Homo sapiens: one gene and its partners. The protein of the gene in region 1 interacts with the protein of each later gene in a biochemical or structural test. Each region holds a gene or a part of one and is shown in the gene's direction. Other genes may lie near its edges. The genes, in order: ARNT, GTF2F2, CALCOCO1 and TRIP11.

The links.
Region 2: the proteins of ARNT (region 1) and GTF2F2 form a complex in vitro, tested with the Homo sapiens proteins (one study listed by BioGRID).
Region 3: the proteins of ARNT (region 1) and CALCOCO1 form a complex in vitro, tested with the Homo sapiens proteins (2 studies listed by BioGRID, with this or other methods).
Region 4: the proteins of ARNT (region 1) and TRIP11 form a complex in vitro, tested with the Homo sapiens proteins (3 studies listed by BioGRID, with this or other methods).

Annotation. Positions count from the first base shown.
Region 1 is NC_000001.11:150,866,599-150,873,629, reverse strand, and holds part of ARNT (aryl hydrocarbon receptor nuclear translocator), read left to right. Parts: intron 1-7,031. UniProt on the Homo sapiens protein: Required for activity of the AHR. Upon ligand binding, AHR translocates into the nucleus, where it heterodimerizes with ARNT and induces transcription by binding to xenobiotic response elements (XRE).
Region 2 is NC_000013.11:45,116,605-45,123,514, forward strand, and holds the start of GTF2F2 (general transcription factor IIF subunit 2), read left to right. Parts: upstream 1-3,905; 5' UTR 3,906-4,051; coding exon 4,052-4,117; intron 4,118-6,910. UniProt on the Homo sapiens protein: TFIIF is a general transcription initiation factor that binds to RNA polymerase II and helps to recruit it to the initiation complex in collaboration with TFIIB.
Region 3 is NC_000012.12:53,724,434-53,732,336, reverse strand, and holds the start of CALCOCO1 (calcium-binding and coiled-coil domain-containing protein 1), read left to right. Parts: upstream 1-4,884; 5' UTR 4,885-4,933; exon of another isoform or gene 4,934-6,137; intron 6,138-6,577; exon of another isoform or gene 6,578-6,647; intron 6,648-7,070; 5' UTR 7,071-7,094; coding exon 7,095-7,250; intron 7,251-7,589; coding exon 7,590-7,692; intron 7,693-7,903. UniProt on the Homo sapiens protein: Functions as a coactivator for aryl hydrocarbon and nuclear receptors (NR). Recruited to promoters through its contact with the N-terminal basic helix-loop-helix-Per-Arnt-Sim (PAS) domain of transcription factors or coactivators, such as NCOA2.
Region 4 is NC_000014.9:92,037,060-92,044,502, reverse strand, and holds the start of TRIP11 (thyroid receptor-interacting protein 11), read left to right. Parts: upstream 1-4,443; 5' UTR 4,444-4,817; coding exon 4,818-4,956; intron 4,957-7,443.

The DNA of each region.
Region 1 (7,031 bases):
CCTTAGGGTTAGTAATAGTGCTTGAACATGTTAATTGTGCTGGTGGCCCTGCAGTGTTTTTCAAGGGGACCACGTTCTTCTGCATTTTTCACTGTGGTGCTGCATTAGAAGAAGAGTAAAATATGGTTGGTACTCTCTAAGAGTTGTGTTGAAGTAATAGTTCTGTGATGATTTTTTTTCTCGAATTGATAATTCTTCATATTCTATCATTTTTCACTAGTTCTACTTATCACTGGCAAGTAGAACTCGGTGGGTAGGTGGTCCATGAAACTTTAGGCTGTTTCTTATCTATGGACTAGACAAGTTTTGTTTTGTTTTTTTTTTGTTTGTTTGTTTGTTTTGAGACAGAGTCTCACTCTGTCGCCCAGGCTGGAGTGCAGTGGTGCTATCTTGGCTCACTGCAAGCTCCGCCTCCCAGGTTCACGCCATTCTCCTGCCTCAGCCTCCCGAGTAGCTGGGACTACAGGTACCCGCCACCACGCCCGGCTAATTTTTTTTTTTGTATTTTTAGTAGAGACAGGGTTTCACCCTGTTAGCCAGGGTGGTCTCGATCTCCTGACCTTGTGATCCGCCTGCCTCGGCCTCCCAAAGTGCTGGGATTACAGGCTTGAGTCACCGTGCCCGGCCCGGACTAGACAAGTTTTGAGGAACACATTTTTTTTCCCCATAGGAGAGGGTCTTGCTCTGTCACTGAGGCTGGAGTGCAGTGACACAATCATGGCTCACTGCAGCCTTGACCTTCTGGGAGCATGTGATCCTCCCACTTCAGCCTCCTGAGTAGGTGGGACCACAGGTGTGCACCACCGTGGCTGGCTAATTTTAAATTTTTTTTAGAGACAGGGTCTTGCTATGTTGCCCAGGCTGGTCTTTAACTCCTGGCCTCAAGTGATCTTCCTGCGTTGGGCACTCCCCAAGAGCTGGGATTATAGGCATGACCACCATGCCCAGCCAAGGTGGAACACTTTTTAAATTGAATGTGTCATTTGTAATGCATTGGCTGAGGGAACAGTTGGGAGGAGATTAGGTATTTGATTTACAATTCCAAATTCAAACTAGAGATGTTGAATGAGTTTGTAGTAAGTGTAGGTTTTTATCTCTCTTGATTCTGGTATTCTCATTAGCAGAGAATTCTTTTTGTGCTATTATGTACAAGTTACTGTGGATGAAGAATGTAGAAGGAAAAGGGTAATACCGTTTGGGTTTGTAAGGCTGTCATTTAGGAAGAAAATTTTTTTTAGCTAATTTTCACCTATATAACTTAGTTTTAACTGCGTCAATTAACACAATTCTTACCTGTTACCTTTATTTACCTTTTTCAGATATGGGAAAATAGGAATTCATGCAATGTAAAGTTAAGATGTCAAGATATTCTTTTATGGCCAGGTGTGGTGGCTCGTGCCTCTAATCCCTTTGGGAGGCCGAGGCAGGCCGATTGCTTGAGCCCAGGAATTTGAGACCAGCCCGGACAACGTGACGAAACCCCTTTACTACAAAAAATACAAAAAATTTTCCGGGCACTGTGGTGCACTTCTATAGTCCCAGCTACTTGGGAGGCTGAGATGGGAGTATCACCTGAGCCTGGAAAGTTGAAGCTGCAGTGAGCTGTGATCATGCCACTGTACTCCAGCCTGGGTGTTGGAGTGAGACCCTGTCCCCCAACAAAAAAAGAGATAGTATTTTATTATATTGCAAAGGCCTTTTTTTTTTTTTTTTTTTTTTTTTGAGACAGGGTCTTACTGTGTCGCCCAGGCTGGAGTGCAATGGCGTGATCTTGGCTCACTGCAACCTCCGCCTCCTGGGTTCAAGCTATTCTCCCGCCTCAGCCTCCCGAGTAGCTGGGATTACAGGCACCTGCCATCACGCCGGCTAATTTTTTATTTTTAATAGAGACAGGGTTTCTCCATGTTGGCCAGGCTGGTCTTGAACTCCTCACCTCAGGTGATCCGCCCACCTTGGCCTCCCAAAGTGCTGGGATTACAGGCGTGAGCCGCCATGCTCCGCCGCCATCTGTTTTTAAGAATGCTGCCTTGGCCGGGCATGGTGGCTCATGCCTGTAATCCTAGCATTTTGGGAGGCCGAAGTGGGCAGATCACCTGAGGTCAGGAGTTCAAGACCAGCCTGGCCAACATGGAGAAACCCTGTCTCTACTAAAAATACAAAAATTAGCCAGGCATGGTGGCAGGTGCCTGTAATCCCAGCTACTCGGGAGGCTGAGGCGGGAGAATCGCTTGAACCTGGAAGGTGGTGGTTGCAGTGAGCTGAGATCGTACCACTGCACTCTAGCCTGGGCGACAGAGTGAGACTCCGTCTAAAAAAAAAAAAAAAAAAAAAAAAACCACGACTGCCTAATATGCCATAATGACTTTAGTAAGTAGACATCAGTGAATCTTCAGGTTGGAAATATGACAACACCTATCATTTTACACTTAAGGAGACAAACCCAGGGAAAGGAGTGGATAATTAAGTTCCTTCTATATGCCAGGCTGCACTTTCCTATTTTGTTGCTAATCTTTATGTCTAGTCTGTAGCAACTGTCTCCAACTTTTCACATAAACTCTTCAAATTTATGTCACTTTTCATAATTTCGTCAATGTATTTTCTTGTTTTAAAGTTTTTATTATTTTAGATAGTGACCGGGTCTCACTATATTGCCCCGGCTGGTCTCAAACTCCTGGGCTCAAGCAATCCTCCTGCCTCGGCCTCCCAGAGTGCCGGGGTTACAGGTGTGAGCCACCCTCTGAGGCCCATTTTATATTTTCCCTCCACGTTTTCATTGTAGTTGAATGGACAAGTAAGTTTATGGATTCAACAGTATACTTAGGGCTGGACATGGTGGCTCATACCTGTAATCCTAGCACTTTGGGAGGCTGATGTAGGTGGATTGCTTGAGCCCAAAAGTTTGAGACCAGCCTGGGCAACGTGGTGAAACCCCATCTGTACAAAAAAATACAAAAAATTAGCAGGGTGTGGTAGCATTCCCTGTAGTCCCAGCTACGTGGGAGACTGAGATGCGAGGATGACCTGAGCCTGGGAGGTTGAGGCTGCAGTGAGCCATGATTGTGCCACTGCATTCCTGTCTGGGTGACTAGGAGACAGAGTGAGACCCTGTCTCAAAAAACACAACAAAACCAGCATACTTAGGATATAAGTTCCATGAGAGCAGAACTTTTGCTTTCCTTGTTTACCAGAGCATTGCAGTGCTTACAGTGGGTGCCTAGTATGTTGGATTAGAGTTCAATGTATGTTTGTGGAATAAAAATGAATGTAAAACCCACTGTTAATATGAAATACCTTTGAAGGGATAAAACTAATTAAGCCATTGACATCATGAATTTGTACTAACTATAATAATATCTAATATTTATTAGTAATACTTACCAGCTGTTCTCATTTAATTTTTATAACAATCGTATTAGGTAAGTATTATTATTCTTGTTTTACAGATGAGGAAACTAAGGCACAGAGAGTGAATAAGTAACTTGTCTGAAGTCACATAGCTACTAGAAGTTAGAGACAGAATTTTATTGTTGGCAGTCCATCTACACAGTCATCATTCTTAATCTCCAAGTTATGATTTTTTCCATTGTGACTTAGAGTCACCTTCCTACTGAAATATAGTACAATGGATATCTTTTGAGAAGGAGGTAGGTGGAGTATTGTCTTTTTTGTAGATGAAAAGGGTGAAATACCACATTAGGCAGCCTGGGGGCAAGGCATTGCTTGGTTGGAGAACCAAGTGCAAGGTGCTAAAAAAAGGAGCTAGAACAGTAGTTTCCAGGCTGAGTGTGGTGGCTCATACCTGTAATCTCAGCACTTTGAGAGGCCAGGGTGAGAGGATTGTTTAAGCCCAGGAGTTGGAGACCAGCCTGAGCAATATAGGGAGACCTTGTCTCCACAAAAATATATATAAAAAAATTAGCTAGATGTGGTGGTGGATGCCTATAGTCCCAACTACTTGGGAGGCTGAGGTGGTGGGAGGATCTCTGAGCTTGCTAGGTCAGGGCTGCAGTGAGCCATGATCATGCCACTGGACTCTAATCTGGTTGACAGAGTGAGCCCCTGTCTCTAGGAAAAAAAAAAAAAAAGGAGTAGTTTCCTAAAATCTTTTCTGTAACATTCTATAATTCTTCATTTTGTTTTGTTTTGTTTTTTTGAGACTGAGTGTCCTTCTGTCACCCAGGCTGGGGTGCAGTGGCACGATCTCAGCTCACTGCAAGCTCCGCCTCCCAGGTTCACGCCATTCTCCTGCCTCATCCTCGCGAGTAGCTGGGACTACAGGCATCCACCACCATGCCCTGCTAATTTTTTGTGTTTTTAGTGGAGATGGGGTTTCACTGTGTTAGCCAGGATGGCCTCGATCTCCTGACCTTGTGATCCGCCCACCTCAGCCTCCCAAAGTGCTGGGATTATAGGCTTGAGCTAGCGCGCCCAGCCTAACATTCTATATTTCTTTCTCCTAGTTCTATGTTTCAATTCTTTAAATACTTTTAAGGGTTTTTTTGAGACAAGGTCCTGTTGTGTCAGCCAGGCTGGAGTGCAGTAGCGTGACCATAGCTTCCTGCAACACCTCCAATTCCTAGGCTCAAGCGATTCTCACTCCTCAGTTTCCTGAATAGTTGGGACCATAGGTATGCACCATCATGCCCAGCTAATTTTTTAATTTTGTAGAGACAGGATCTCGCTATGTTGCCCAGGCTGGTCCTTTTTTTTTTAAATTTTATTATTATTTTTTGAGACGGAGTCTTGCTTTGTCACCCAGGCTGGAGTGCAGTGGCGTGATCTCGGCTCACTGCAACCTCTGCCTCCCGGGTTTAAGCGATTCTCCTGCCTCAGCCTCCTGTAGCTGGGACTACAGGCACGTGCCACCGCGCCTGGCTAATTTTTGTGTTTTTAGTAGAGACGGGGTTTCACCATGTTGGCCAGGATGGTCTCGATCTCCTGACCTCGTGATCTGCCCACCTCGGCCTCCCAAAGTGCTGGGATTACAGGCGTGAGCCACCGCGCCCGGCCTGCCCAGGCTGGTCTTGAACTACTGTCCTCGAGTGATCCTCCTGCTGTTGGCCTCCCAGATTGCTGAGATTACAGGCATGAATCATGCACTGCAGCTTTTAGGATTGTTATTAGAATCCTCTACAAGTTCTTGATACTCCATAATTGAGCCTCTCCTAGAAACTTGGTTTCAGAGACACTGTTGCTAGGTCTTTATCACTGATTGTTCCTTCTTTGTCCTTTTTGCTTATCTTTCTGCTTGTTTCTTTCTCTTGTTCAGTATGCTTCTACTTTTCTCTTCTCACCCTTGAGGCTAGGACTCTTCTTTGAGACAGGGTCTTGACTCTTTTTTGAGACAGGGTCTTGCTATGTTGCCCACGTTGGTCTTGGATTCCTGAGCTCAAATGATCCTCCCACCTCTGCTTCCTGAGTAGCTGGGATTACAAGTGTACACCACAGTGCCCGGCTTGGGGCTAGAACTAAATAGTAAACCAAGCAGTTTCCTTCATTTCTTCCCATTTGCCCACCTACCTGCCTTTCTAGCTGCTTGCCTTCCTACTTCAATTTGACATTCACTTGGTACCTACCATAGTCCTCTTCCCTTTGTATTAGTCCATTCTCACACTGCTATAAATAACTACCTGAGACTGGGTAATTTATGAAGAAAAGAGGTTTAATTGACTCATAGTTCCGCAGGCTGTATGGGAGGCAGGGCTGGGGAGGCCTCAGGAAACTTGGAATCATGGCGGAAGGCGAAGGGGAAGCAAGCATGTCTTCACATGGCTGGCAGGATAGAGGGAGAGAAGGGGAAGGTGCTACACACTTTCAAACAACCAGATCTCTTGAGAACTCTATCATGAGAGAGCATTAGGGGAATGGTGCTAAACCTTTGGAAACCACCCCTATGATCCAATAACCTCCCACCAGACTGCACCTTCAACACTGGGGATTACAATTTGACATGATATTTGGGTGGAGACACACAGAGCCAAACCATATCACCCTTTATTTATCTTTTATGTATAAAAGACTCCAAAAATTTCATTCCTGGCTTCTCACATAAACTACTTTCCTATATTTTTATCTATTTAAAAGATATCTCTCTCTTTTTCTTTTAAAGTTGAGACAGGGTTTTACTATGTTGCCCAGGCTGGTCTTGAAATCCTGGGCTCAAGCATTCCTCCCACTTCAGCAACCTGAGTAGCTGGACTACAGGTGTGTGCCATTGTGCCTGGCTGCATCTCTGTTTGAATAGTTTTTTTTTTTTTTAATTTATAGAAATGAGGTCTCACTGTATTGCCCAGACTGGTCTTGAACTGCTGAGCTCAAGTAGTCCCCCCATCTTGGTCTCCCTAGTAGCTGGGATTATAGGTGTATGACACGATGCCCAGCTCTATTTGAGTAATCTGTTTTTTTTTGTTGTTGTTGTTTTTTTTAAAGACAGAGTCTTTCTGTGTTGCCCAGGCTGGAGTGCAGTGGTGCGATCTTGGCTCACCGCAGCCTCCGCCTCCTAGGTTCAAATGATTTTTGTGCCTCAGCCTCTCGAGTAGCTGGGACTACAGTGTGCCACCACGCCTGGCTAATTTTTTGTATCTTTAGTAGAGATGGGGTTTCACCATGTTGGCCAGGCTGGTCTTGAACTCCCGTCCTCAAGTGATCCACCTGCCTTGGCCTCCCACAGTGCTGGGATTACAAGTGTGAGCCATTGCGCCCAGCCTCTATTTGAATAATCTTTAACATCCTATATATGTATGTACTCACCAGTATTTCCTTTAAATCTGCTGTTCTTCCTACCTTTCTGTATCTTTCATCACTATCACAATTCAGTTTTTCATTTCCCCAGGCTAAGGAACTATAAGTGTTTGGATTTTATTTTTTATGTGTTTATCTGGGTTATTAACTCTTCTCAGGTCTTTTGCCAAATATACGTGTGTGTGTGTGTATATGTATGTGTGTATACATACATATATAAAAGTTATTTAAATCAAAACTATACATCCATATATTAATATTTAAAGACTTAGATAGTTTTATAAAATGTT
Region 2 (6,910 bases), on another chromosome or scaffold:
TTCTATGAAGGAGGGAACTGTTAGGGTTGAAGGGAAAGGCAGGGAGAATTCAGAGACGTTTTATAGCCTTGGTGTCATAACGAAGCAAAATTATCTACCTACTACATCACTGATGTCAGGGAAATTGAATGAATTACCACAATGCTGTATTCATTTGTAATTTTTGAATGACAATGTTTATGTTAGTAACCAATAGGTAATGAGTCTGGTCTATTAAGAAAGACCTGGTGGTAGCATTTTTTGCCTATATGAACTCTCCTGGAGGTAATACTTTTTCTTGCTAGAATGTTTCTGAGTAAGTGTGAACAAAGAAAATCTCTGGCCTGAAGAGATCAGGCCTGTGTATGATAGACAAGGACAAAATCTGAAAGTGAACTCAGCTATCTGTTAAAGTCATTCTAATTCCCTCAACTCACTTGTAACATCTCGCCTAATGGCTTTGCTGCTTATTCTCTAATAGCTACCTGATAGAATTGTGGTGTTCTGAATTAACAAGGCATGAGGGAATTCTAGCTGTAAGGCTTTCTGGTAAATTTTTTCACGTGTCTCAGACTTTGGAAACTGGCCCAGTTCTAATGAACTATATTGATTAGAAAAATATCGATTAGAATTCTATCGATTAGAACTCTATCATTTAGAACAATGATTCTCAGATTTTGGTGTGCCTAAGAAACACTCTGGGAGCTTGCTAAAAGTGTCAATTTCTAGACTCACATCCAGAAAGTCTAATTTTGTTTGCCTGGATTGGGGCTCAGGTGTCTTCATTTTAAAACACATTTCCCCCAGGTAATTCTAATGCAACTTGTACAGGAACCAGAGGCTGAGAACACTCATCTAGACTGAAGCATGTTTTGTGGTGGGTGTGGTGTTAGGGGTTTTTCTTGCTGCAGCTAGTCTGGAAGACACACAAAAAAGAACGTAGTTCTGCCTATTAAGCAGGTTGGGGCTGGGCATGGTAGCTCATGCCTGTAATCCCAGCATTTTGGGAGGCTGAGGTGGGTGGATTGCTTGAGCCCAGGAGTTCAAGAGCAGCCTGGGCAACATGGTGAAACCCCGTCTCTACAAAAAATACAAAAATTAGCTGGGTGTGGTAGTGTGCACCTGTAGTTCCAGCTACTTGGAAGGCTGAGGTGGGAGGATAGCTTGAGCCCGAAAGGTCAAGCTGTAGTGAGCTGTGATCATGTCATTGCACATTCCAGCCTGGGTGATAGAGCAAGACTCCGCCTAAAAACAAAAACAAAAACAAAAACAAAGCAGCAAAGAAGGTTGGGTGGCCTTGAGGTCTGACCTAGAATCTAAGCCCTAGATAAAGATGGAGGTTCAAGTTGGCCTAAGCACTACCAGACTTTTTGGAAAAATTGCAGCCAGCAATGAGTTCTTGGGCCCTCCTTCCTAGAATTGCATTTGCGCCTTAAAAATTTTGGTAACAACTTGACTAGTTAATCATCTGAGGGAGTAAAAAATTTTGGTGTTACCTTCTCTGGGGCACTGACTTCTGCATCCTATGCTCTGTGAGCCCCATCCTGGGATATGGTCTCAGCTCTTGGATGTTGATATGTTTAATGACATATAGGGCTATATTGAGGAAAAATAATACCTACTCTGGCAAATTGTTATAAGGATTAAATGGGATAATACAGAAAATAACTAGCTGAGGATCTGGCATATAATGAGTCCTTAGGAAGGTGAGGGATCTGCCTGTAGTATCTATCCACCTTAAGGGTCTCCACAGTAAATCTGTGAATTTGGTTCATAGGGGCCATGCCCTCCTTTTCTATCAGGGTTCTGTAAACATCCCTCTTCAAGCTAGAAGGGGTTTGAAAAGGACAGACAGGAGAAGCTTGCTCTTTGTTCAACAGCGTACGAGGAAGAGGTGCTCAATACGTTGTTTTTTTCTTTCTTCTATGTATCATTTTAAAATCTCCACTTTTCCGTTCTTCGCTAGCCCTTTCATCAGCCATTTTTTTTCTCTCTCAATCTCTGTGTACACACACATACACACATACCCACACCACGTACACATTTTAAGGCCTCCCATGACCCAGAGACCAAAGCCAGGGTTCCAATCTTTAAAGTCCATTCCTGGGGTGCTCTAGACTTTGCTTCTCTTCTCCCATGGTCTCATATTTCAATTTATTCCTTCTCCTTGATTAAAGTTTAGAGCAGTTCCCTTAATCTGCTTACTCTTTATATGTTTTAAAAAGGCCCTTTTCCAAGTTGTTGCACAAGAAGAAACCTTCATTTTCTGCTTAAAAAAATTTTTTTTTGTTTTTCTTTTTTTTTTAGAGATAGGGTTCTTCCTATGTTGACCAGGCTGGTCTCGAACTCCTAGCCTCAAGTGATCTTCCCATCTCGGTCTCCCAAAGTGTTGGGATTACAGGTGTGAGCCACTGCGCCTGGCCAAAAAAATTTTGTTTTTAGTATTTATTTTTTAGAGACAGGACCTTGCTCTGTCACCCAGGCTGGAGTGCATGGCACGATCATGACTTACTGTAGCCTTGAACTCCTGGGCAGACACAATCCTCCCACCTCAGTCTCCCAAAGTTAGGGTTACAGGGTTGAGCCACTGAGCCTAGCCTGAAACTTTCATCTTCAACACACTCCTGGTCTCTCCCATCTTTCCTATTAGTTTTCCTAGCTAAAAGCAGAGTTCTGACAGCTTTTCCTGGCCCTATGCTGAACACACATAAAATTTCCTCAATTTTGTGCAAGGCTCTGATGTGTGATTCAATAAATTACTTGCCATTCTTAACAATACCTTACTGTTTGTTTCTCTTCAGCGAATGTTCTTTCACCCAAAGCCTACTGAAACCTGACAATGTGTTAAACACTGTGCTAGACATTGTGGATATAAAATGAATAAAGCACTATTTTTTATTTGTCAATTATACCTCAATAAAGCTCTTTCCGCCTAGGAGGAGTTCATTGTCTGGAAAGCAAAGGCAGATATGTAAACATATATATTATAGTTCAGAGTGCTAAGTATCACACTGTGATGTGAAGAAAAACTAATTTCTTCTGGGGAAGTTGATAAAAGATCTCATAGGAAGTGACATTTTCATTGGTCTTGAACCATAAGTAGGAGTTTGCCAACCAGAGCACAGGGGTGAGAGTGAGGGCAGGGGTAAAATAGGGCTTCCAAGGGAAGGGAATCCAGTGTGCAGAGGCTCTGAAATGACCGACGAAGATTCTGACGTGTTTAGGGAAGTCTGCTGGGTTTGATGTGGTTTGGTGCATGGCGGAGTGATGGTGGGAGGTGCAAAGAGATGAAATTGAGAGGGCCCAGTTGAAGCAGGAGGATTGAACTTTATTCTAGAGGCAATAAGAGAAAGAGAAAACTGTTTAAGCAGGGGAGGAAACGATCAGGTTTGTCTCTTACTTGTTCGTTTCGTTACAGACTTCCGGGTTTTGGAAACTGAGGTGCTCCGCTTGCTTCATCAGAACAGCTCGGGTAGCCTCTGAGCTGAAACACGGCTTTTTTTTTTCCAGGTCTAGAAACGGCATGTTTTCAATATACCCAAGGCTACTAAGTTTGATCCCAGTGCCCATTTGTGCTAATGACGTTGGCCAGGGACGCCAATTTACTACCCTGACCCTGTCCTTCAAATATTGTCTCTCTCTCCTTGGCTAGGGTTGGACATGTTCTGACACCTTTCGTCTCTTTGAACCCCATTTTTCCGTTCTGATAATCTTTTTCTTCAGTTATGCTGACCATGTCTTTAAATACATTGCTAACGTTTTAGCTCATCCCACCCTACGTTTTAATCCCTCAGATGCAGACATCGCGGACAGCCACGCCCACTCAAGAAATTTCCGAAACAGAAAGTTTGTCTGCAACAGCGCGCCGTACTGACGTAGCAGTGCGCAGGCGCAGTCCCGGCTCCTGGCGGCGTGTTCCTCTTTTCCTCGGTTCCCAGTGTTCTGGCAGGTAAGGAACGCCGGCTCTTCGCCTCTCAGCGCGGCTTGTCCTTTGTTCCGGACGCCCGCTCCTCAGCCCTGCGGCTCCTGGGGTCGCTGCTGCATCCCGCACGCCTCCACCGGCTGCAGACCCATGGCCGAGCGCGGGGAACTCGACTTGACCGGCGCCAAACAGAACACAGGAGTGTGGCTAGTCAAGGTAATGTTCGCGAGTCTCCCACTTGCGCTCCTCCTAACACAAGTATAGTTTAAGTAACTTGAGCCTATCCCGCTCCGTGCGCCTCTTAAAGTTCTTTTACGGCTATCTCGTTAGAGCTTCACACATTTTGAGAGGCAGGAGTCATTGTTGTATCTGTTTGCAGACGAGGAATTAGTTTAGGGACGCAAAGTGTCTTTCAGCCAGTTACTACTCTGAATCTGCCTGGACTAGATCTCTTTCTCACGGCTTTCCTGGAATCTTGTCTTGGTGTCCCCAGATTTGGACGGTGCATTTTATCCCAGACTGAAGAATTCCTTGTATCTTCCCTTGGTGAAACTGGTTTTAGCCATGAGCCTGCGTGAGGTAGTTGAATGTCTACTTTCTGTACAGTTTTCTCGGCCAGAAAGTAGGACTGGTCCCTGCCTACTCTTAAAAGTGTTCTCTTAGGTTGATGGTCCTTAATGAAGCTCTCAAAAGAGGCGAGAGAGCCCCAAACTCACAGAAGGAGAGGTCATTGGACTGGAGTATTCTTTTAGAGCACATTTGGGTCTCGTGAAACTGGCCGTCAATAAACGTTTTATGTGAAGACAGCAATTTTGGTTAGCTCACAGTAAGCACTATTTGTGCTTTATTGTTTCATATTGGGGAGTGTTTTCTCCTAGGGGAGTTTCATAATACTTAAGCATATTCAAAATGTGATCCTGAAAGTCGTTGAAACTTAAAATGTAAGGACTTTTGGTTTCTTAATGCTTTAACTGTTTTATCACATGGCTGAGTTCTCGTCAATTAAATCTAAGAGGTCTTTCTTGTCGGCCTTCCTAAAACAGCCCCCTTGTGATCATTTGCTAACACGACAGATGTGTATTACATTCTTCAAAGCACTTTTCACAGTGTAGAGTGATTTTGTGTTCATATGTTCAAAGTTGGTTACCTCTGTCTTTCCAACACACAGAATCACATTCCATGAGAACAGGATCTTTGCCTGTCATACCCAGAATAGTGTTTGGCGCATGGTAATTACTCAACAAATAGATGATGAATAAATGCATGACCTCTCATTCTTCAGCCCTCGCCTTAGTCTGTGGCACTCATTTGACTTATTTCCAAACTCAGTGTGACTTAAAAGGATGGATTAAATAGGCATTTCTCTCTCCAGCAGCATGTTACTTGGGGGGAGAGTCACTAAGGAGGAGATTGCCCTTACGGACTGAAGGAAAAAGCTTGAAAAAATGGTGTGACTTGAGATGGTGCCATTGTCCTAGGAGCATGGTAAATGCTCAATGTTTGTCTTACAGGATTTGGATGGGTGGACACAGTGTATACCATGGGGAATGGAACAGAAATGCAAGACTCAAAATATATAATCAGCATGGCGTGTTGTGGAAAACAGAGAGAACCTAGAGCAGAAGATCTGTGTAGATGAAGATGGGGACCATATACTCAGATTGTCATATCATGAAACGGAGATATTCTAACTTTAGTTTACAAGGAAGTAACGAACTTTTTGGAGGATTTGAGTGAGGTAGAGATGCCAGATATTTATTCAGGAAAAAAAAAAATGTTTGGCAGTGTGCAGTACGAATTAGAGGGGAGGGTAACCAGAGTCACAATTAGAAAATTATCACAGGATCGGGCTGGGCATGGTGGCTCACGCCTGTAATCTCAGCACTTTGGGAGGCCGAGGTGGGTGGATCATGAGGTCAAGAGTTCGAGACCAGCCTGGCCAATATGGTGAAACCCCATCTCTACTAAAAATACAAAAATCAGCCAGTCATGGTGGTGTGCGCCTGTAGTCCCAGCTACTTGGGAGGCTGAGGCAGAAGAATCACTTGAAACCGGGAGACGGAGGTTGCAGTGAGCCGAGATTGCTCCGTTGCACTCCAGCCTGGGCAACAGAGCAAAAATTCCTTCTCAAAAAAATAAATAAATTAAAAAAAAGTGTAATTTGTTGCTTAGAAAGTGTATCTTCATTCTCATCTAATCAGAATTTGAATTGAAGTACATATTGATTTCAAGTTTTTTCTCCTTACATTAATTTTCCTATTAAAAATAATACCTTGAGTTCTGATCTTTGTTGCTAAATAATGTTTCTTCCTAGGATATCTCACGGTTTATAGATCATCTTGTACATATTTAATTCCATCACTAGACAGGTATAGAACTGTGTAAATACAGTAAGAACTATACATACAAGATCTCTGAGAGTTTTGAGCGGGAAAAAAATTAGTGCTTCACCAGAACTGGGAAGACATCATAAAGAAGGTGACGTTTAAGAAAAGCCTATTTGGAGGTTGCAGTGAGTCAAGATTGTGCCACTGCATGCACTCCTGCCTGGGCGACAGAGTGACATCCTGTCTCAAAAAAAAAAAATGGATGTGAGTGTGATCTGTCTGGGACATCTGTCACCCCATTGATTACTAGGGTTGATTTGGCTAATCTGGCTGGCTAGGCGGGTGTCTCCTTCCTCCCACACTGCTCCATGTATGTCCCTCCCGAAGCTGCACGCTTGACCAAAGAGGATGACCATCCGGATAGAGGAGGACTGGTCTTCAGTCAAGGGTATATGTATGGTTGTACTCCCCTGCTAGAACCTCCAAAGAAGCTTTCAAGAAGAGCTTATGGCAGGCCGGGTGCAGTGGCTGATGTCTGTAATCCCAGCACTTTGGGAGGACGAGGTGGGCGAATTGCTTGAGCCCAGGAATTTGAGACCAGCCTGGGCAATATAGCAAAACCCTTTATCTACAAAAACTATAAAAAGTTAGCTGGGCGTGGTGGTGTACGCTTGTAGTCCCA
Region 3 (7,903 bases), on another chromosome or scaffold:
CTTTGCGCTAAAATTACATCAATGTTTTTCCTACTTCCCACAGAGTCCACAGTTTGGAAACATTCAGAACAGCCTACAATATCTGATAGAGCTGCTTCTGAGTGTTTGTAAAGCACCCAGCAGAGTGCCTGATACATGGCAGACACTCAGTACTATTAATAACACTGGCCATCATTATTTTCTCAGAAAGCATCTTGTTATATTGGGAAAGGTATAGGTTTCAGAATAAGATTGTTCTTAGAGGCTTTTTTTTTTTTAGACCGGTCACATTCTCGTCGCCCAGGCTGGAGTACAGTTGGTGCATTCATGGCTCACTGCAGCTTTGATTTCCCAGGCTCAGGTGATTCTCCCACCACAGCCTCCCGAGTAGCTGGGGCTACAGGTGTGCACCACCACACCTGGTTAATTTTTGTATTTTTAGTAGAAACAGGTTTTGCCATGTTGCCCAGGCTGGTCTCTAATTCCTGTGCTCAAGCAATCTGCCGGCGTTGGCCTCCCAAAATGCTGAGATTATAGACATGAGCCACCGCGCCCAGCCAGTAAGTTACTCTTAAAGTCTCAGTCTCTTCATCTGTAAAATCTGGATAGCACCTTGCACAGTTATTGTGATGATTCAATGGGTGAAAGAGCACCTCTCACATAGTAGGCACTCAACTAGTGGTAGCTCCTCAAAGCATTCCCAGAGTCCAGGGCCAGCTTCCATTAAACATTTATTATGTGGTGGGCACCGAACTACATGAGGCAATACCAGAATTAGGACTTTTGCAAAAGAGAAAAGAGACAACATTTCAGGGAAATGGATTCACTTTTCAGCAGCTCCTTCCCAAGTTCTACGGAGCCCTTCGACAATCATGGCAGTCATCTCCCTTCCCCAGACGAGTTAAACTATATTCTTAAAAAAAAAACAACAGTCCCCAAATCTCCCACTCTCACTCAGAAATATTCTTTGATCCCAATAACTGTAACTTCCACCTGTCTTCACAGTATTATTCCCCTTTTTCAAAAAATCTTCAGTGACTAACTTCCCATTCCTGATGGGAGTGAAGTCCAAACCTTTGTACATGATGTATTGATGAGGAAAACAGTAGCTACTATAAAAAATAAACCCATTTTAGCAGTGTAACAAAATTGAAATTGATTTATTGGTCAAGTGAAATCTGAAACACATGATCCTGATTAGTGGTCCGCTCTCTGCCACGTGATGATTCAGGGAACCAGCTTCCTTCCATCCTGTGGCTCCACTGTCTTTAACATGTGGCCTTCAGGGTCACTGTGCCTAAGGTCATCTTCATCAAGCTAGACAGGAAAAAAAATAGGAAGGAACTTTTTTGGAGGGTTTTATGGGCCAGACTTGAAAATGGAACACATTAATTAAAGGAGAAGCTTAAAAATGTGGTATAGCTAGGCCGGGCGCGGTGACTCTTGCCTGTAATCCCAGCACTTTGGGAGGCCGAAGCGGGCGGATCACGAGGTCAGGAGATCGAGACCATCCTGGCTAACACGGTGAAACCCCGTCTCTACCAAAAATACAAAAAAATTAGCCAGGTGTGGTGACGGGCACCTGTAGTCTCAGCTACTTGGGAGGCTGAGGCAGGAGAACGGCATGAACCTGGGAGGCGGAGCTTGCAGTGAGCTGAGATGGCGCCACTGCACTCCAGCCTGGGCGACAGAGCAAGACTCCGTCTCAAAAAAATAAAAAAATAAAAAATAAAAATAAAAAAATAAAAAAATGTGGTACAGCTGTGTGTCCAAGAAAAAGAAAGAAACAGGTTCTGATAAACACATAGGCTCTGGCTCACTTGACATTCAAAACTCTCTATACTCTGGCTTAAGTCTGTCTTTCCAATTTTATCTTCCATTATCCAATTATCCAACTGTAGCTTCTTTTTGTTGTTGTTGTTGTTGTTGTTGTTGTTTGTTTTGTTTTTTGAGACAGAGTGTCACTCTGTTGCCCAGGCTGGAGAACAGTGGTACCATTCTGGCTCACTGCAACCTCTGCCTCCTGGGTTCAAGCGATTCTCCTGCCTCAGCCTCCCAAGTAGCCGGGATTACAGGCACGCGCCACCATACCTGGCTAATTTTTGTATTTTTGGTAGAGATGGGGTTTCACCAGTTGGCCAGGCTGGTCTTGAACTCCTGACCTCAAGTGATCCGCCCACCTTGGCCTCCCAAAGTGCTGGGATTACAGGAGCAAGCTACCACGCCTGGCCTCCAACTGTAGCTTTTATTCAGCTTTGCTGCAATCACAACCTACCCCAAAATCTAAGCGACTCACAACAACCAGTGCTGGCTTCTGATTTATGTATATGCAGGTTGTGGGTAAGCAGTAGCTCAGCTCCACAGGTCTTCTCATTCCCAGGCCCAGGCAGAAGGAGCAACTCTCATGTGGATTATTCCCATTCTAGTGGCAGAGAAGAACAAGAAAGTGGAAACTCATGTGTTCAAACATGGCATGAGTCACATCTGTTCACATCCCATCAGCCAAATTATGAAACATGACAAAGCCCAAAGTCAATGACATGAGACATCTATTCCTTCTACAGGAGATACTGCAAGTCACATGGCAGTGGGCAGGAATGAGAGAGGAAATAATTTCAAACAATTAGTCCATCCACTACAACTGCCATTTTCCATCTGGAGTACATGGCAGACATTACTACCCAGCACTCTTTCCTCAGAATCCTCAACACAACATTTCAGGCAGACATTACCAATAATCTGAGTTTGCCTAAATACATAAATAAAGGTTGAAATTGATGTGCTATTATGTGACTCTAGGCTCATTATCCATTCCCACCTCCAAATCTTTGCTTTGGCCTAGAAGAAGCTTACCCTCCCCAGTCCCCATCTTGCCAAACTATCCAAATTTAATCTATCCTTCAAATACTTGAATATTTGAAAGTAATGACTATAATTAAAATAATGAATTACATTTATTATTTTAAAATAATGAATTACATATATTATTTTAAAATAATGAATATTTACTATTCATTCTTTCAATAAAAGTAACTGAATACCTAGCATAGTACCTGCCACATATTTGTTGAATGAATCTGTTTCACATTACTTTGTGCCTTGCACTGAGCACATAAATGCTCAGTGAACATTTGTCTCCTGTTAATGAACCAGCACTGTTCCTTAGAACAATGGGAGTTAGTATCACATGCCAGAGTTTCTGGACTGGGAGTATGGTGACTGCTTGTGCTTAAATCTTGATTCTGCCACTCACTAGCTGGATGACTCCAGGCAAGTCATTAATTGTGCCTCAATCTCATCATGTGTAAAATGGGGATAATAACAAGGCGTATTACATAAGCCTGTTGTATTAAATGGGAAAATTCTTAGCATAGTTTGAACAGATCATAAGCACCCAAGAAATGGAAGTTGTTACCATTTTTAGCTCCGAGACTGTTTTCTCGTAGACCTTTATTTTGGGCGGAAGACAAGAGCCAAGAACTCTTGAGACTTGGGTCCTTGAACAGACCTCACTCTTAACCCACTCCAGACCTTGAGCTACCTCCTCATCCAGAAACTGGTTCCCTAACTCATAAATCCTGACTAATGACACAGACACATCACCTTAATGTTTGTGCAGCCCAGTAACTAATTTTTAAGTGCCTGGAGATCTTCAGATGAAAGACACTGAGGGCAGACACCGCATTCAGTCATAAAAGCAAAACACTACCAAAAAACTTGGAAAAGGCAGAAGCTCCATAACTTAGTGCAGTAGAGAATTAAAGCAGGCACCTAGGAAGAGGAAATCAATCCTTAAGACTGTAATCCTTTAATGCAGAGCCAGAGAAAGAGGTAATTCTGAATGCCTCCGACTACAGGGATGGAGAATAGCGAGAGGGGGGACAGGATGCCCAAGTCTATAACGTGACTTGGGGTGTGGGAGACGTGTCAATCTTTCACCTCTCCTAAATAAAAACCGGAACGTCAACATGTATTGTTATCCTAATTAATTTAAGCCACTTAAAAGGCTTGGGCAAACAGGCCCCATAAGTGGCTTGTTTGTGAATTGTGACAGGTCCTGAATTATGCCAAGCTCCCTTTTCAATTTCATTCTTCTCATTCCACCGCTCCTACCACCACCTCAGTCAATTGTATCCTCTTCCTAGACCCAGAAGCCACTCTGGGGGAGCCCAGTCCAGATGTGGATATGGTCAGGCCCCTTAGCACTGAAATCCTCAAGTTGGAAAAAAATGGTCAGCTGTGCAGAAGACATCATTCTTACAAGGTCTGTCCCTGAGATTGAAGTAAAGAAGAAACTGCTATACCCCAGCTATCAGTTTCCCATCCCCAAAATGGTGGGTAGCTGTGGTGTAGTGGCAAGAATATATGACGTGGAATTAGCCAAGGCTAATGCAGTTCTACATTTCATAGCTTTGACACTTCACACCGCCTCCTTAACCGTACTTCACTTTCTACATCTATAAAGCGTGCATAACGCTTAACGCCTATCTCACAGGTGGGTGCGAAAAGTACAGGACGGGACGCAACAGAAACCGCTCTGCCCACCGTTAAAGCGTTATATGGAAGGCTTTAGAGCCGTAAATCCTCCCCAGCCCCCAACAACGCACGTTACAAACCAGCAGCCACCCCTAATGCAGCCGGCCCCCTCCTAAGGGATCATGGGCCTTGAAGTCCTTTGCTGGCCACACCCTCGTTTTCTGTCATAGGAGTGAGAACTACGCCTCCCAGGATGCCGCGGTGAGGCCGCCGTCACGGACGCCCTCTTCCCCGCCCTCCTTGCGCGCAGCCTTCTGGGATGTATAGTCCTAGATCCGAGCACGCAGCGGCAAAAGGGCGCAGAAGAACCACAAACCCCAGAAGCCCTCGCGCCCACTCTTCTCCCTCCCCTCCAGAAGTCGGAGTGCTGTTTTTGTTGTTGGTGAAAGGTGAGGGGAACAGCTGATCCGTCTGTTGGGTAAGAAACTTGGCCTAATTGGGGGCGATCTTATGGGAGGGGAGGGTCACCCCACTTTCCAGTTTGGGGAAGGATAACGTAAGGGAACTGTCGAAGGGGAATACAGGAGCGTTTGGGTTGTAACCCTTTCCGTACTGGAGAAGCCACCCCCGCTGTTTGGGGAGTTCTTGGTTTCAAGGGGACTCTGATTGGGGGTGGGGGGCGCCCCCTCGTCGTCCTCTCCTTCTTCTCAATGCGTCTCTATAAAGCTGATCCCTTCAAGGGAGCTGAAATCTGCTTATTCGCTCCCAGGCAAGACGTGTCCCCTACACGTCTTCCCTCTCTCCCCTACGCAAATCCAAAGGCCTTTACGACGCTGAATCCCTGGGGAGGAAGGGGGACCTTCCAAGGTGTAGAATGTCAAGGAACTCTAGAGCCCTACAGAGTAGGGGATGGGACACCCGCTCTCCGCCCCATCATGTGAACATCTGAATCAGGCTACACACCTACATCTTAGGTGCCCAAAACTTTCTTTCGGACATGAAGAACGTTTACAGCTGTTACGGATTTTCTTTGTGGGGTGTATTTTAGGGTTCTCCAGGTATATCTTTGGGGACAATTTACCCCCACCCTTAGAAAGCTGGAAGAATTGCATTTGGAGAAAACATGGATTAGTTTCAACCAGGAATTTTTCAGGGAGATGAACATTAAAAAAAACTTTTTGTTCTACCTATTTGGGGGACAGAAGTTGCTCCTTTTTGTGTTGCTGGCTCACCTTTATCCACTGAGTTTCTGTTTTCTTTTAAAGTTCCTGTCCCCTGGACTTCAGCCTGGTGTGGGTTTGTGATGTTTGGGGGCGTGCATATGACTAGTGACAATGGCTGGTTGGACATGTCAGCTGTGAGTGACACAGGAAATAGATTAGTGGGCTGGAAAGGAGTGATGAATAAGAGGGCCATCTCACAGCCCTGGACTGAGGAGTTCTTTTGATCGTTATTATTGTTATCTGTCCTCACCCCACCCTCATATTTTCCAATTAACTCTCCCCAGCTAACTTGGAACACCCCTTCCTCTCAACCCCATCCTGTAGTGTGTCTCCAGCTACCAATACAAACAGATGGAAGGATGGAGGCTGAGGGGAGCAGAGAGAAAATGAGGAGAGAAATACTAAAGTGAAACCAGTAGGTTTCTAGTCCTGCTGCAGGCACAGTCTGGAGAGAAGAATGTTAGGTTCTTTTTGAACTATCTCCCCTTTCCTCAACGTTAAATATACATTTCCACTTCTTGGGGCCCCTTACTTCCCACTTTCTAGTCTGTTCCCTGCCCTGGGGTGGGGCTTTCCTGGCTCCAGGCCCCCACATTCCATCTCCCCACCCCCACCACGTTCCTGCTAAGCGCCTCACTCCACCCTTGAAGTTGCCGCCTCCAGAATTCTTGACTTCCTGGAATAATAAGTCAAGGGACAGAACCTGTCTTTCCTTATATCCTCCCCTTCCCTTTGTCTCTTGGATGCCAGCAGAAGCTTTCTGCTTCCCTAGAATTCATGGGGGTAGGCAGCTCAGAGAGATGAAAAGAGCTGAGAGCTCAGGAGCCTAAGGATTTGGGCTCAGTTCCCCTCGACCCCCAGCCATATTCTAGCTCTGAAAACTCAACCATTCCTTTCAGAGATTAGTTGCTGCTTTCTGATGTCATAACTCATTCCTGGATACAGCTGGGTCAACAAGCTTAGGAGTAGGTAAGGACACCTCTCTCAATGAGAGGGCCCCACACCTCAGTTGGATTTTGTATTCAAGAGCCAGGATGTGTGGGAGATGGGATGGAGAAATGGAGGCTGTCGACCAAGTCGCAGTATCCCAGGCTCTGTCCCCGTCAGTGTCCTTTTGGGAGCAAAATTAGAGAAGTCTGAACCCTCAGAAGGGTCTATGAGCCAGAGCGGGTACAGTGTGAGACAGGATGGGGACGGACTTGGAAGGCCAGACCTACGTCCTAGAGACTAAGAGTGATACCTCAAAAATGTCCCGTAACCCTCAGGGACTAGAAACCAGGTATGCCTTATCTCCAGGTGTAGTGGCAGGGGCTGTGAGTGTGTGGTGCTGGAGCTGTGGGGGGAAGGAGGTGGACTGGAAAGACTTTAGGCTATCAACCCTTTCTTTCATAGGAGGACAGATATCTCAAGGCCAGGATGGAAGAATCACCACTAAGCCGGGCACCATCCCGTGGTGGAGTCAACTTTCTCAATGTAGCCCGGACCTACATCCCCAACACCAAGGTGGAATGTCACTACACCCTTCCCCCAGGCACCATGCCCAGTGCCAGTGACTGGATTGGCATCTTCAAGGTATCTCTGGAACCCCTTTTGGCTTAGGTTTATGGGCTGTGAGTTGGTTGGAATAAGGGGAATGATTGGGCTCTTGGATTCTCAACCTCAGGTTGATAGAGAAGAAGAGAGAAAGATGTCACAGATGACAGAGGCCGCCTGTATAACCAAAGCACATATTTTCTCCATCTTAGCCTTGTTCTTTACTGACACATTAGTGTCCCTCCACTTTCCCTTTCTCTTGTCATTGTTGCCACTGTAGCTCCATCCTGCCCCCCTTATTCAACCCCTCAGCCCTTTCTTCCATCCATAGAAGGTAGTTCCATGACCATACCTTTCTCCAACCTTGGGCTTTCACAGGTGGAGGCTGCCTGTGTTCGGGATTACCACACATTTGTGTGGTCTTCCGTGCCTGAAAGTACAACTGATGGTTCCCCCATTCACACCAGTGTCCAGTTCCAAGGTACAAGGGAAGATGGAAAATTGGGAGAGAGGAGCCAAGGGAGTGGAGGTTTGAAAGAAGGTAGTGGGCTCAGAAACATTAAAAGTTAGGCACAAAGGACAAGGAAAAATAAACGAAAATAAATATAATGAGAATATATCCAACAGCGCTCAGCGGATAGAGAATCACGGGATTATCGCAGAATCAGGGACATAGAAACAGAAGGAACTTC
Region 4 (7,443 bases), on another chromosome or scaffold:
GCCCTAATCTTGTTTACATTGCCTGTTTACACTGTTTCTCTAAGCCATCACAGCTGGTATCTCCTGGTGCTATCCCCAAACCGCCACTCTTAACTCCCTCTTAGAGTGGATAGATGATATTTGCTGGCAGGGCAACCTCCAATATTTTCACTCTGATGAAGTTCTATTCTTTACTTTTATACTCACTCTTATTCTCATTCCCATTCTTATGCCACCCTCTACCTCTCCCCAGCTATCTCCACCACACTATCAATCTTACTCTCTCCTAGCCGTTTCTAATCCCTCCTTAGCGAATAATTGCTGGCTTTGCATTTCCCTTTCTTCCTGCACCTACACAGCTGCCCCCGCCTTATATACAGACTGGGCAACATCTCCTGTCTCCCTACACCTCCAAATTTCCTTTAACAGCCCTCATCTTTACCCTCCTGAAGAACTTCTTCACTTTCTAGACAGGTCCAGCAAGGCCTCCCCAGACATTTCACATCAGCAAGCTGCCGCCCTCCTCCACACTTACTTAAAAAACCTTTCTCCTTATATCAACTCTACTCCCCCCACATTTGGATCCCTCACAACACAAACTACTTTTCCTGTGGCTGCTCCTTTATGTATCTCTCAGCAAAGACCCACTGGAATTCCCCTGGGTAACCTTTCACCTTCTTGATGTTCATTCACTCTTCATCTCCAAAGCCCAACTACACACATCACTGAAACAACTGGAGCCTTCCAGCTCCGTATTACAGATAAGCCTTTTATCAATACAGGCAAACTTAAAAACATTAGAAGTAATTATTGCTTAGGAAGACACCCTGTATTTCACTCCATCCTTGGCTACCTTCCCCTTGCTCGTCAGACCCTCCTCCCAGGCCTTCTTGTTATACCCAGCCCCGTAAATAACAGTGAAAGGTTGCTCATAGACACTCGACGTTTTCTCATACACCATGAAAATTGAACCTCTCCCTCTACACAGTTACCCCATCAGTCCCCATTACAACCTCTGACGGCTGCCGCCCTAGCTGGATCCCTAGGAGTCTGGGTACAAGACACCCCTTTCAGCACTCCTTCTCATCTTTTTACTTTGCATTTCCAGTTTTGCCTGGCACAAGCTCTCTTCTTCCTCTGTGGATCCTCTACCTACATGTGTCTACCTGCTAACTGGACAGGCACATGCACACTCATTTTCCTTAATCCCAAAATTCAATTTGCAAATGGGACCAAAGAGCTTCCTGTTCCTCTCATGACACCGACATGACAAAAAAGGGTTATTCCACTAATTCCCTTGCTTGTCGGTTTAGGACTTTCTGCCTCCTCTATTGCTCTCGGTACTGGAATAGAAGGCATTTCAACCTCTGTCACAACCTTCCATAGCCTCTCTAATGACTTCTCCACTAGCATCACAGACATATCTTAAACTTTATCAGTACTTCAGGCCCAAGTTGACTCTCTGGCTGCAGTTGTCCTCCAAAACTGCCAAGGCCTTGACTTACTCACTGCTGAAAAAGGAAGGCGCTGTGTGTATGTGTGTGTGTATATATATATATATATATATATATATATATTTTTTTTTTTTTTTTTTTTTTTTTTTTTTGAGACGGAGTCTTGCTCTGTCACCCAGGCAGTGGCGCATCTCGGCTCACTGCTCACTGCAAGCTCCACCTCCTGGGTTCATGCCATTCTCCTGCCTCAGCCTCCCAAGTAGCTGGGACTATAGGCGCCTGCCACCACGCCCGGCTAATTTTTTGTATTTTTTTAGTACAGACAGGGTTTCACCATGTTAGCCAGGATGGTCTCGATCTCCTGACCTCATGATCCGCCTGCCTCGGCCTCCCAAAGTGCTGGGGTTATAGGCGTGGGCCACTGCGCCCGGCCGGGCTCTGTATATTTTTAAATGAAGAGTGTTCTTTTTACCTAAATCAATCTGGCCTGGTGTATGACAATATAAAAAAACTCAAGGACAGAGTCCAAAAACTTGCCAACCAAGCAAGTAATTATGCTGAACCCCCTTGGGCACTCTCTAATCGGATGTCCTGGGTCCTCCCAATTCTTAGTCCTTTAATACCTGTTTTTCTCCTTCTCTTATTTGGACCTTGTGTCTTCCGTTTGGTTTCTCAGTTCATCCAAAACCATATCCAGGCCATCACCAATCATTCTATATGACAAATGCTCCTTCTAACAACCCCACAGTATCACTCCTTACCACAAAATCTTCCTTCAGCTTAATCTCTCCCACTCTAGGTTCCCACACCACCCCTAATACCGCTCGAAGCAGCCCTGAGGAACATCGCCCATTATCTCTCCATACTACCCCCCAAAATTTTCACCACTCCAACACTTCAACACTATTTTGTTTTATTTTTCTTATTAATATAAGAAGACAGGAATGTCTGGCCTCTGAGCCAAGGCCTGCATGTATACATCCAGATGGCCTGAAGGAACTGAAGAATCACAAAAGAAGTGAAAATGGCTGATTCCTGCCTTAACTGATGACATTACCCTGTGAAATTCCTTCTCCTGGCTCAGAAGCTCCCCCACCAAGCACCTTGTGACCCCCCCGCCCCTGCCTGCCAGAGAACAACCCCCTTTGACTGTAGTTTTCCACTACCCACCCAAATCCTATAAAACTGCCCCACCCCTAACACCCTTTGCTGACTCTCTTTTGGGACTCAGCCCACCTGCACCCAGGTGAAATAAACAGCTTTATTGCTCACACAAAGCCTGTTTGGAGGTCTCTTCACACGGATGCCCGTGACAAGTGCCTGCCACCACATCCCACTAATTTTTGTATTTTTAGTAGAGATGGGGTTTCACCATGTTGGCCAGGCTGGTCTTGAACGCCTGACCTCAGGTGATCCACCTGCCTCGGCCTTCCAAAGTGCTGAGATTACAGGCGTAAGCCCCTGCACCCGGCCCTGTTTTTTTTTTTTTTTTTTTTTTTTACATCCCGGAGTCACACTGGATATCTGAATGTGCTTAAAATAAAATTCACATCTCATTCTGGAAGTGTTTATTAAATGCTGTCCCTGCATTCATGTGAACATCACAGCCCAGCGGTTAGATGTGCAGACTCCAACGCCTGACTGCCTGGGTCTGTCACTTACTAGCTGTATGACCTTGGATGGGTTACTTAACATTTCTGGGCACTGGTTTCTCATTAGTAAAATGAAGAATGGGCGCCTGTAGTCCCAGCTACTTGGGAGCCTGAGGCAGGAGAATCGCTTTAACCCGGGAGACGAGGTTGCAGTGAGCCTAGGTCCCGCCATTGCACTCCAGCCTGGGCCACAGAGCGAGGCTCCATCTCAAAAAATAAAATTTAAAAAAAAAAAATTCAGCTTTCACGGAGAATTACTACTGCCTGGTGCCATCAGATCCCAAATACTGGAGGCATTCCCAATGTTCTGTTCACAAACTGTGCAATCTGTGATAGCCCCTCTTGTGAATATAATCAAAGTGAAAGATGCCAGTATACTTATTGCTATGCTTAAAAGAACTGCAGATCTATCATATCCTTTTGAAACCAAAAAATGTGGAAGTCTCCCTGGCTAGATGCTGTGTGTCCACGTATCCTGCACCAATTGCTTGAAAGTCACATGACAACCTTTCTTCCTTTAGGGAAGGAAGCAAGCAAGGTAGGACTCTGTGTGTTACAGCCAGTGTGGGTAACTAAGGACTGAGGGAGGTGTGGGCACTTGCATAGCTAGTGCCGCCAATACCATAGGAGCGTTGACACTAAACGGCACTTCTCTATTAAGTTGCCCTGCTGTCTTCTAACGAGTCATTTTGAAAAACGGTTGTCCGTTTTTCAACTACTTGGGTGAGGGCAGCTTCATGAAAAAAGCTCATCGTATGTTAAAGAAGGTAGGGTTTCAATTGTGAGCTATAAAGCCACCAGAGGAGATTTCTCCTATAGAAGGAAGGTGTGTTTCCTGCTTGGACACCTGAATTTGCAACCCATCCTTTCTTTTTTCCTTTTTCCTTTTTTTTTTTTGCAACCCATCCGTTCTATCTTTGTAGCCTCAGCTCCTACCATAGTGCCTGTCACGGAGCAGCTAATCGACACAGTGACGCGTGTAAGTTATTTGAAGCCACTTCCTGCGCAGTGGAACGTCCCCGCCAAGTCTCCCGGCACTGCTGGGTGTAGTCCCAATTAAAACACTAGGTTTCAACAACACAAGGAGGGTCCGCAGGGTCCCCGGACTACCCACCAAGGGTCGGCTCTGCTTTGAAACGCAGCTGCAGGAGGCCGAGGAGCGCCGCGATGCCCCAGTTATCCAGGCCATTCCTTCCCCGGCCGAAGCTGGCCGCCTGCATGCACCTAACCTTGCGCTAGGCACTGGCTGCGGTTAATCCAGCCCGCGCTCGGTCCTCCGCGATCCCAGCCTCCCTTGCGCCAAGGACACGTCCGGCGGCTTCGCGGGGCCTGTCTACGCCACCGCGGCGCTTTTCTATGATCCGCTGCCGCTTTCCGAGCGAGTGTCATGGCGGCCGGCGTCGAGTTGGCAGGAGTAACCCACGGAACTGAGGAAAGTCATTAGAGCTGAGAAAGAAGTGGCCCAATCTGGACGGTGGGAATTCGTGGGAATGAGCAGAAGGCCCTCCGTAGGTGACTGTGTCACTAGAGGCGGGCCCCTGGTAAAATTCCAGGCCAGGCCTCTGCGTTTCTAGGCAGAACCTGGAGTCGGCCTTGCCTGAGAACCCAGCTTTGTGTTATCGTATCCTGTCTCGCGAAGGCAGGCGTTCAAGGATATTTGGTCGGATCGCCCGGCGGCGCTAAACGTTTTCTTTTTTCCGAGCGGACCGGGTCGTTCTCTAAACTCGCCGCGATGTCGTCCTGGCTTGGGGGCCTCGGCTCCGGATTGGGCCAGTCTCTGGGTCAAGTCGGGGGCAGCCTGGCTTCCCTCACTGGCCAGATATCAAACTTTACAAAGGATATGCTGATGGAGGGCACGGAGGAAGTGGAAGGTAACAGCTGGAGCGAGGGAAGGGAGGGCTTTTCTAAGACCCTGGGAACGTCCGTTTGGTCCCTACTTCCATCAGTCAGGAGACGCGGACAGGTCGCAAAGGAATGCTGCTCCTCCCTTTTTTCTTCACACACCTCCTCTTGCCTCTTCTCAACAGATTTTCTATGATGAAAGACCACTGGGGGCCAGGGGAAGAGTCCTGGTTCTCCTCTCTTTAAATATTCTGGATATCTCAAAGTACAGTAGAGTGAAACTGCTCCTACGTTAAGTCGAGTTTATTTTCGTTTGGTTGATCCACGCCCACCACTTTGCCCTCAGTTTGGGGGCTGATCTCATTCTTAACATCTTCCTGTATTCTGACCCAGTTTAAAGAATTGTATATCTGTTTTCTATTTTTGTAACAGTTGAAATAACTCATAATTTAAACACTTGGTGAGTTTTGCTCTTTTCTGTCTTGAGTATGTTATGAAACACGGCCATGTTTTTCTATTTAATTATTTTTTACTTTTCCTTATTGTGATGATACATTATAGCGTTCCAGCTGAGAATGTATTTTTGTGTATAATCGCCCATTTCGCCCATATTTCGACAGTAGAATAGGGAAGACAACCCTATTCTTAAGGTACCCTTAGCAATCTTCACTCATTTTTGAAGTCCTCAATCTCGTTTTACTAATGAATAGTGACCCAGAGTTACATGGTAATCAATGGCTACATTAGTTACTATCCATTAATTACTATTTTGATTTCTTGGCATTTTAGTAAGCAATGTTTGGATCAAAACAGTTTTTAAGTTTCAATCTAAGTCTGCTCCAGGGAGATAATGGGCTGTTCTTTTGGGTGAGAGCTGCTGCTTTGACAATTGTATTTCTTATAAATAAATTTAATAAATTAGTATTCTGGCTTAGTTTTTTTTTTTAATTGCTAATTTAACAGATCCTTCATATTTATTTGGTAGAAATCGGGAAAGATTGTTTGATAGAAAGATAATGCTTATGTTTTGAATTTCTGTGGGGTCTATTTAGATGGAAGGAAGAATAGACTGGGGAGCTACCGAAATCCATTTTACCGCTTTACGTTCCCCATGCCATAAAGGTGCATCAGTGAGACAGCTTTGGGGATAGAAATGAAAGGGCTTCTTTATGTGTGGGGGAAAGCATGGGACCTTGAGGGCAGTCAGAAGCACAGAAGGGCTGGATAACTATGGGAAATGACTGGTCGCTCCTTGTATCCTAGATAGGGGAAAACGGTTGGCTGTTCCTTAGACCCTAAGCCAGAGAATATGCATCCCTCAACCTGGATGTCTTCCAGGTTTAAGGTGGTGTTCATTTTGTTCTCCTGCCAAATGTGCTGTTTTCTCATTCTTAATAGCTTCACTCTCAGTTTCCTAAACTGTAAATCTTCGTGTCCTTGTTTTATGTCTTTTTTCATCTCCTACTTCCAGTTGGTCATGATATCTTGTTTATCCTATGCCAGAATTGTCCTTTGCTTTATTACTCCTTATTCTTTAGATCCCTATAATCTTTCCCAGGGACTATTCCTCTTTCATGTCCTGTCACCCATTTCTCCCTACCCCAGTCCATTTTCTATTGTATTGTCAGTTACTTTCTAAAAACAAACCTGCGTAAAAATTTCTTGACCCTGTTACAGAATAAAATCCAAACCTCTTAGTTTTGGACTGAGTCTCACTCTGTTGCGTAGGCTGGATGCAGTGGCGCGATCTCGGCTCGCTGCAACCTTCGCCTCCCGGGTTCAAGCAATTCTCCTGCCTCAGCCTCCCAAGTAGCTGGGATTACAGGCGTGTGCCACCACACCTGGCTAATTTTTGTATTTTTAGTAGAGATGGGGTTTCGCCATGTTGGCCAGGCTGATCTCGAACTCCTGAGACCGCAGGTGATCCTCCTGCCTTGGCCTCCCAGAGTGCTGGGATTACAGGCGTGAGCCACCGCACCCGACCTTCAATGTACCTTTTCTAGTTGCCATACCAGTTGCTGTACATGTGCACATATATATGCTTGCTTGTACGCACAGCTTCTGTCGTGTGGGATTTTGTCAGGCACTTACACAACTTCAAGCCTCTACATGGAAAGCCCTTTCTTCTCTATTTCCTCCTTCACCCAGAAAACAATTCTCCTGTACAACCCTGCTCATATGTCAGGTACTTAAGTACTTGGTGAACCATTCTGACTCCCACACAGGTTGAGTTGTTGAGTTGAATGTTGGTGATCTGTGTTCTAACAGAACTTTGTGGATCTCTCCCTGACAGCATTTAACATGTTGAGTTATAATTTATCTGTTTTCCTGATGCCCAGCGTGAGGACTGAATTTTTTTGCTCCTTATATTACCAAATATGTGACACCTTCCTTTTGGCACATAGTAGATGCTCAATAAAAATGGCACAAGTGCGTGATTAGAAATCTGCAAAGTTGCTTAATGCCTTTATTCTTTCCCCTTTGTATTTCAATCGGACTTGCTTAACACCTAATTT